Linked DNA regions of Homo sapiens: region 1 is linked to region 2. The links come from fine-mapping of genetic effects on gene expression. A gene starts in region 2. The other region holds a variant in brackets. All regions are shown on one strand. Distances are from middle to middle.

Region 1 (2,919 bases), 52 kb before region 2:
CCACTGTGCCTGGCCTGAATATCAGTAAGTATTTTTTTCGAAGAATAAATTCTGCTATATATTCTGTTTATGCTGGTAACGATTTGTTTATGCAGCTTGTGGTGACAGGCTCCTTGAATTAGTTTTCACAGCATGTAGAATGGTGCCACAGTGTTTTTCATAAAGCTGGGAAGTCCGAAAGGCCTGAATTCCTTATATTTAAAAGGGCTTATGAGTCATGTCAACATGGGCATGTTGTTCAACTTTAAGTTCTAATTTCTTTATCTGTAAAAAGAGAATGATAATAGAACTTCAGTAATTCATCATGTAAATAGAAAATGATTTATTGTCTGTGTAAAGTTATGAATAGCTTCTTTACACTCAAGATACAAGAGATGGTATGCTTCTTTATTTTCTAAATAAAGCCATCTCCAAATCATAACTTATCAGGGTCAATGATAAGCTCAATATCAGTGATTAATTGGGGTTATCCTCACTGGAATTTACAAAAACCCTGGGGCTTACATATTCCCAGGAAAAGGGGAAGGGCCTGGTTCTTGGTCCACAGGGATAGCCATTTACCCCTTGGCTCCACTTGGGTGCTGTGCACAGGGCCATTTTGTATACAACCTTCACAGACATGGATGGCAGCTCAGTCTTCCAAATGTTCAACAGTAGTTGAGCATGGTTTCTTTGCCATGCACTGGAGACGGCCTCCTTGGGTGAGCTGGCCCAAAACTTCCTCAAAATTCCTCTCTGCTGACTGCTTAGTCACAAATGTCTTAAAAAGATGCTCAAGACATAGCATTTAATGGCCAATTCTCATCTGTTCCAAACACCTGTTCCCATACAAGGACTTGTAACCTCCAGAATGCCAAGTCCAAGCACGTGAAGAAATTCACAATTCTCCCAATGTTTGCATCTGTGAAACCAACTGCAAGGTTGGGCCAATCTCCCAAAGCCTCTATTTTCATCTTCTTTGGGACAGTCCAGTTTAATTTCTTCATTGGCTGAGAGCTTTGAAATGAGCCCTATGAACTCTCACTCTGAGGACAAGGGAACTCTAGACCTCAAGGGCATAGAGCCCTGACCTCATTGTTTCACTGATGAGAAGAAAATAGGGGGAAAAAAATCAAGGTATCAATAAATTCTTCAGGAAGTCACACTGTTACACAGGCAGATCACATAGCACATAGAAACTGCTCACATTAGTTTGCTTTTTATCATTATTTAGAACACGGTACGTATTTATTGGTTATGCTCCACTGAATCTTCCACCTCTTGAGATGCCTTAAGTTGTGGAAGTAAGAGCCTGGCTTTTGGAGTCAGACAGCTCTGGTTCTGATTCCTGGCTTTGCCTCTTATCTCTTTGCACTTAGGTAAATTACCTTGCTGAGGTTCAGTTTTTCTTCTGTAAAATTAATTGTGAAGGTTAAATGCACTGAACACAGATAGCTGTAGCTTTATCTGCCAGGGCATACAAATAGTCACATATATAATAATAGTCCAAATCTCAAGGCTTGGAGCCCACACCTGCTTGACTGGGTCTTTTAGTAGAAGCCCCTCCTGTTAATTTATTCTGTCTGGGAGGTCCCATGGGTGAGGTTTGCCCACAATTTCCTTTATTCTCATGCCCTGTCTCATCCCCAGACTGCTGATCTCTTGCTTTTCTCCCTCTCTGACTGGTAGGAAAACTCCCTTAGAG[T/G]CTCATGATCAGAGACGTTTTTCACAGAAGAGTTAGGGCCCTAGAAACAGATGTAACTGACATCCTAGCCTTCTACTGTCATAACACATTGATGCTCAGGGGGAAGGGAGTAATATCAGGTAAGGTCAAGCTCCCTCCTACCATGGTCCACTGCTCCTCTGACATTCAGGCAGGCTACCAGTTCAGCCTGCTCTTCCAGACCTCCTCTCATAGGCTCTGAGGTCCCTTCGGGCCAGCCTTTTTCAGGGGATCCCAGTCCCCTAGACTGGTGTGTGGATGCCTTAACACAGTTGGTGGACCAGGATTGAGCTCTCTTCTACAGCTATCCTAAGACCATGCAAAACAAGGTATGTGTCTGAGCATCAGTTGTGGTGTTTCAAAACATTCTGTGATGGTCAAGAAGCTTTGGAACTTTGTATAACAGGAAGCTGTGCTATCCAGGATGTACAGAGGGTCTCATGCCATGCTCCAAACTTGATCTGGTCCAAAATATTCCTTAAAGCAACTAGTGCTTGCCACACAATAAGCTACTTATTTTGCCTTCTTTGCTTAAGAACAATTTGAAGTATTTGCTAGACAGTTGTCTCTAAATATTTTACCCTTATGCCTAACTGTTTTACAGTGATAAAATCTGAGACCCAAAGTTGTCTGGGTCATGTTATTATATAGAACATCTCAGGACTTGGGAGATTACTATCTGATATGGTTTTGCTGTGTCCCCACCCAAATCTTATCTTGAATTGTTGTTTCCATAATCCCTAGATATCATGGGAGGGACCTGGTGGAAAATAATTTAATCATGGGGGCCGTTAGCCTCATACTCTTTTCATGATAGTGAGTTCTCACGAGATCTGATAGCTTTATAAGCGACTTTCCCACTTTTGCTAGGCACTTCTTGTTGCTACCCTGTAAAGAAGGATGTGTTTGCTTCCCCTTCCCCCATGATTGTAAGTTTCCTGAAGCTTCCCCAGCCATGCTGAACTGTGAATCAATTAAATCTCTTTTCTTTATAAATTATCCAGTCTCAGGTATGACTTTATTAGCAACATGAGAATGGACTAATACAGTAAATTAGCACCACAGAGAGTGGGGTGCTGCTGTAAAGATACCCCAAAATGTGGAAGCGACTTTGGAACTGGGTAACAGGCAGAGGTTGGAACCATTTGGAGGGCTCAGAAGAAGACAGGAAAATTTGGAAAAGTTTGGAACTTCCTAGAGACTTGGAGGGCACAGAA
Region 2 (2,919 bases):
TGCTGTTCTCTGTATTTCCTGAATTTGAATGTTGGCCTGCCTTGCTGTGTTGGGGAAGTTCTCCTGGATAATATCCCGAAGACTGTTTTCCAACTTGGTTCCATTCTCCCCATCACTTTCAGGTATACCAATCAAACATACATTTGGTCTTTTCACATAGTCCCATATTTCTTGGAGGCTTTTTCATTTCTTTTTATTCTTTTTCTGTAACCTTGTCTCCTTGCTTTATTTCACTAATTTGATCTTCAATCACTGATACCCTTTCTTCCGCTTGATCGAATTGGCTATTGAATCTTGTGCATCCGTCATGAAGTTCTTGTGCCATGGTTTTCAGCTCCATCAGGTCATTTAAGGTCTTCTCCACACTGTTTATTCTAGTTAGCCATTCATCTAATCTTTTTTCAAGGTTTTTAGCTTCCTTGCAATGGATTCAAACACCCTTCTTTAGCTCAGAGAAGTTTGTTATTACTGACCTTCTGAAACCTACTTCTGTCAACTCATCAAAGTTATTCTCCATCCAGCTTTGTTCCATTGCTGGTGAGGAGCTGCGATCCTTTGGAGGAGAAAAGGCATTCTGATTTTTAGAATTTTCAGCTTTTCTGCTCTGGTTTCTCCCCATCTTTGTGGTTATATCTACCTTTGGTCTTTGATGTTGGTGACCTACAGATGGGGTTTTGGTGTAGATGACCTTTTTGTTGATGTTGATGCTATTCCTTTCTTTTTGTTTTCCTTCTAACAGTCAGGTCCCTCAGCTGCAGGTCTGTTGGAGTTTGCTGGAGGTCCATTCCAGACCTTGTTTACCTGGGTATCACCAGCGGAGGCTGCAGAACCGCAAGTATTGCAGAAGAGCAAATATTGCTGAACAACAAATATTGCTGCCTGATCCTTTCTCTGGAAGCTTCGTCCCAGAGGGCAGCCGCCTATATGAGTTGTCTGTCCACCTCTACTGGGAGGTGTCTCCCAGATAGGCTACACGGGCATCAGGGACTCACTTGAGGAGGCAATCTGTCCTTTCTCAGAGCTCAAACGCGGTGCTGGGAGAACCACTGCTCTCTTCAGAGCTGTCAGACAGAGACGTTTAAGTCTGCAGAAGTTGTCTGCTGCCTTTTTTTGAGCTATGTCCTGCCCACAGAGATGGAGTCTAGAGGCAGTAGGCCTTGTTGAGCTGTGGTGGGCTCCACCCAGTTCGAGTTTCCTAGCTGCTTTGTTTACCTACTCAAGCCTCAGCAATGGCGGACACCCCTCCCTCAGCCAGGCTGCTGCCTCACAGTTCAATCTCAGACTGCTGTGCTAGGAGTGAGCAAGGCTCTGTGGGCGTGGGACCCACCGAGCCAGGCACGGGAATCACCTTGTCTACTGGTTGCTAAGTCCTTGGGAAAAGCACTATTTTGGTGGGAGTGTCCTGTTTTTCCAGGTAGTCTGTCACGGCTTACCTTAGCTAGGAAAGGGAAATCCCCCAATCTCTTACACTTCCTGGGTGAGGCGATGCCCCCGCCTGCTTCAGCTCGCCCTCCTTGGACTGCACCCACTGTCCAACCAGTCCCAGTGAGATGAACCAGGTACCTCAGTTGGAAATGCAGAAATCACCCGTCTTCTGCGTCGATCATGCTGGGAGTTGCAGACTGGAGCTGTTCCTATTTGGCCATCTTCCAGTTTCAATAGTTCTTTATTTTATTTATGCTATCTATTTCTTTTCCTTTTTTTTTTTTTTTTTTTTTTTTGAGATGAAGTCTTACTCTGTTGCCCAGGCTAGAGTGTAGTGGTGTGATCTCGGCTCACTGCAACCACTGCCTCCTGGGTTCAAGTGATTCTCCTGACTTAACCTCCTGAGTAGCTGGGACTACAAGAGCATGCCATCATGCCCAGCTAATTTTTGTATTTTTAGTAGAGATGGGGTTTCACCATATTGGCCAGAATGGTTTTGCATTCCTGACCTCAAGTGATCTGCCTGCCTCAGCCTCCCAAAATGTTGGGTTACAGGGGTGAGCCACCGTGCCTTGCTATTTATGCCATCTATTTCACTGAAGATTCCGCCTCTCATTTCTTGAGTCATTTTTTTTAAATTTCCTTAAATTGGACTTCACATTTTTCTGATGCCTCCTTGTTTAGCTTAATAACTGACCTTCTGAATTCTTTTTTAGGAAAATCAGGAATTTCTTCTTGGTTTGGAGCCATTGCTGGTGAGCTAGTGTAATTTTTTGGGGGGGATGTTAAAGAAAGTTGTTTTGTCATATTACCAGAATTGTTTTTCTGGTTCCTTCTCACTTGGGTAGGCTATGTCAGAGGGATGGTATAGGGCTCAAGGCTGCTATTCAGATTTTTTGACCCACGGGGTGTTCTCTTGCTGTAGTATTCTCCCCCTTTTCCTATGGATGTGGTTTCCAGAGAGCTGAGTGGTAGTGATTGTTATCTCTCTTCTGTATCTAGCCACCTAGCTGGTCTGCCAGGCTTCAGGCTGGCACTGAGGGTTGTCTGCACAGAGTCCTGTGATGTAAACCATCTGCAGGTCTCTCAGCCATGGATACCAGCACCTGCTCTGGTGGAGGTGGCAGCAGGGTGGAATGGACTCTGTGAAGGTCCTTAGTTTTGGTTGCTTAATGCACTATTTTTGTATTGGCCTCCTGCCAGGAGGTGGCACTTTGAAGAGAGCATCAGCTGTAGTAGCATAGGGGCATCAGGCAGTGGGCAGGGCCCTAGAATTCCCAAAAGTATATGCCCTTTGTCTTCAGCTGCCAGGGTGGGTAGGGAAGGACCATCAGGGGGGCAGGGCTAGGCATGTGTGAGTTCAGACTCTCCTTGGGTTGGTCTTGGTGGCAGCTGCTGTGGTGGATGGGGGTGTTGTTCCCAGGCCAATGGTGTTATATTCCCAGGAGGATTAGGGTTGCCTCTGCTGTGTCATGCAGGTTGTCAGGGGAGTGA

Alleles and levels. Alleles are on the strand shown, and positions count from the first base shown. SD is a standard deviation of normalised expression in the study named.
With allele G in place of T in region 1, the expression in lymphoblastoid cells of the gene that starts at base 1,664 in region 2 is lower (moderate effect, 0.70 SD a copy in GTEx).

The links. PIP is the estimated chance that this variant, and not a neighbour inherited with it, causes the effect.
Region 1: its variant is the best candidate, but not a certain one, in a credible set for the expression of HYAL4 in lymphoblastoid cells (GTEx, PIP 0.50).

What each region holds. Positions count from the first base shown.
Region 1 is chr7:123,791,050-123,793,968 of GRCh38, forward strand. It overlaps a transcript of HYAL4 not described here. Among named protein-coding and RNA genes, the nearest start is that of WASL-DT, 43 kb to the left of the region's middle. The variant T/G (reference allele first, on the strand shown) is at 1,685.
Region 2 is chr7:123,843,506-123,846,424 of GRCh38, forward strand. HYAL4 (hyaluronidase 4) reads left to right here and starts at 1,664. Exons shown (of 5, transcript NM_012269.3): 1 at 1,664-2,180.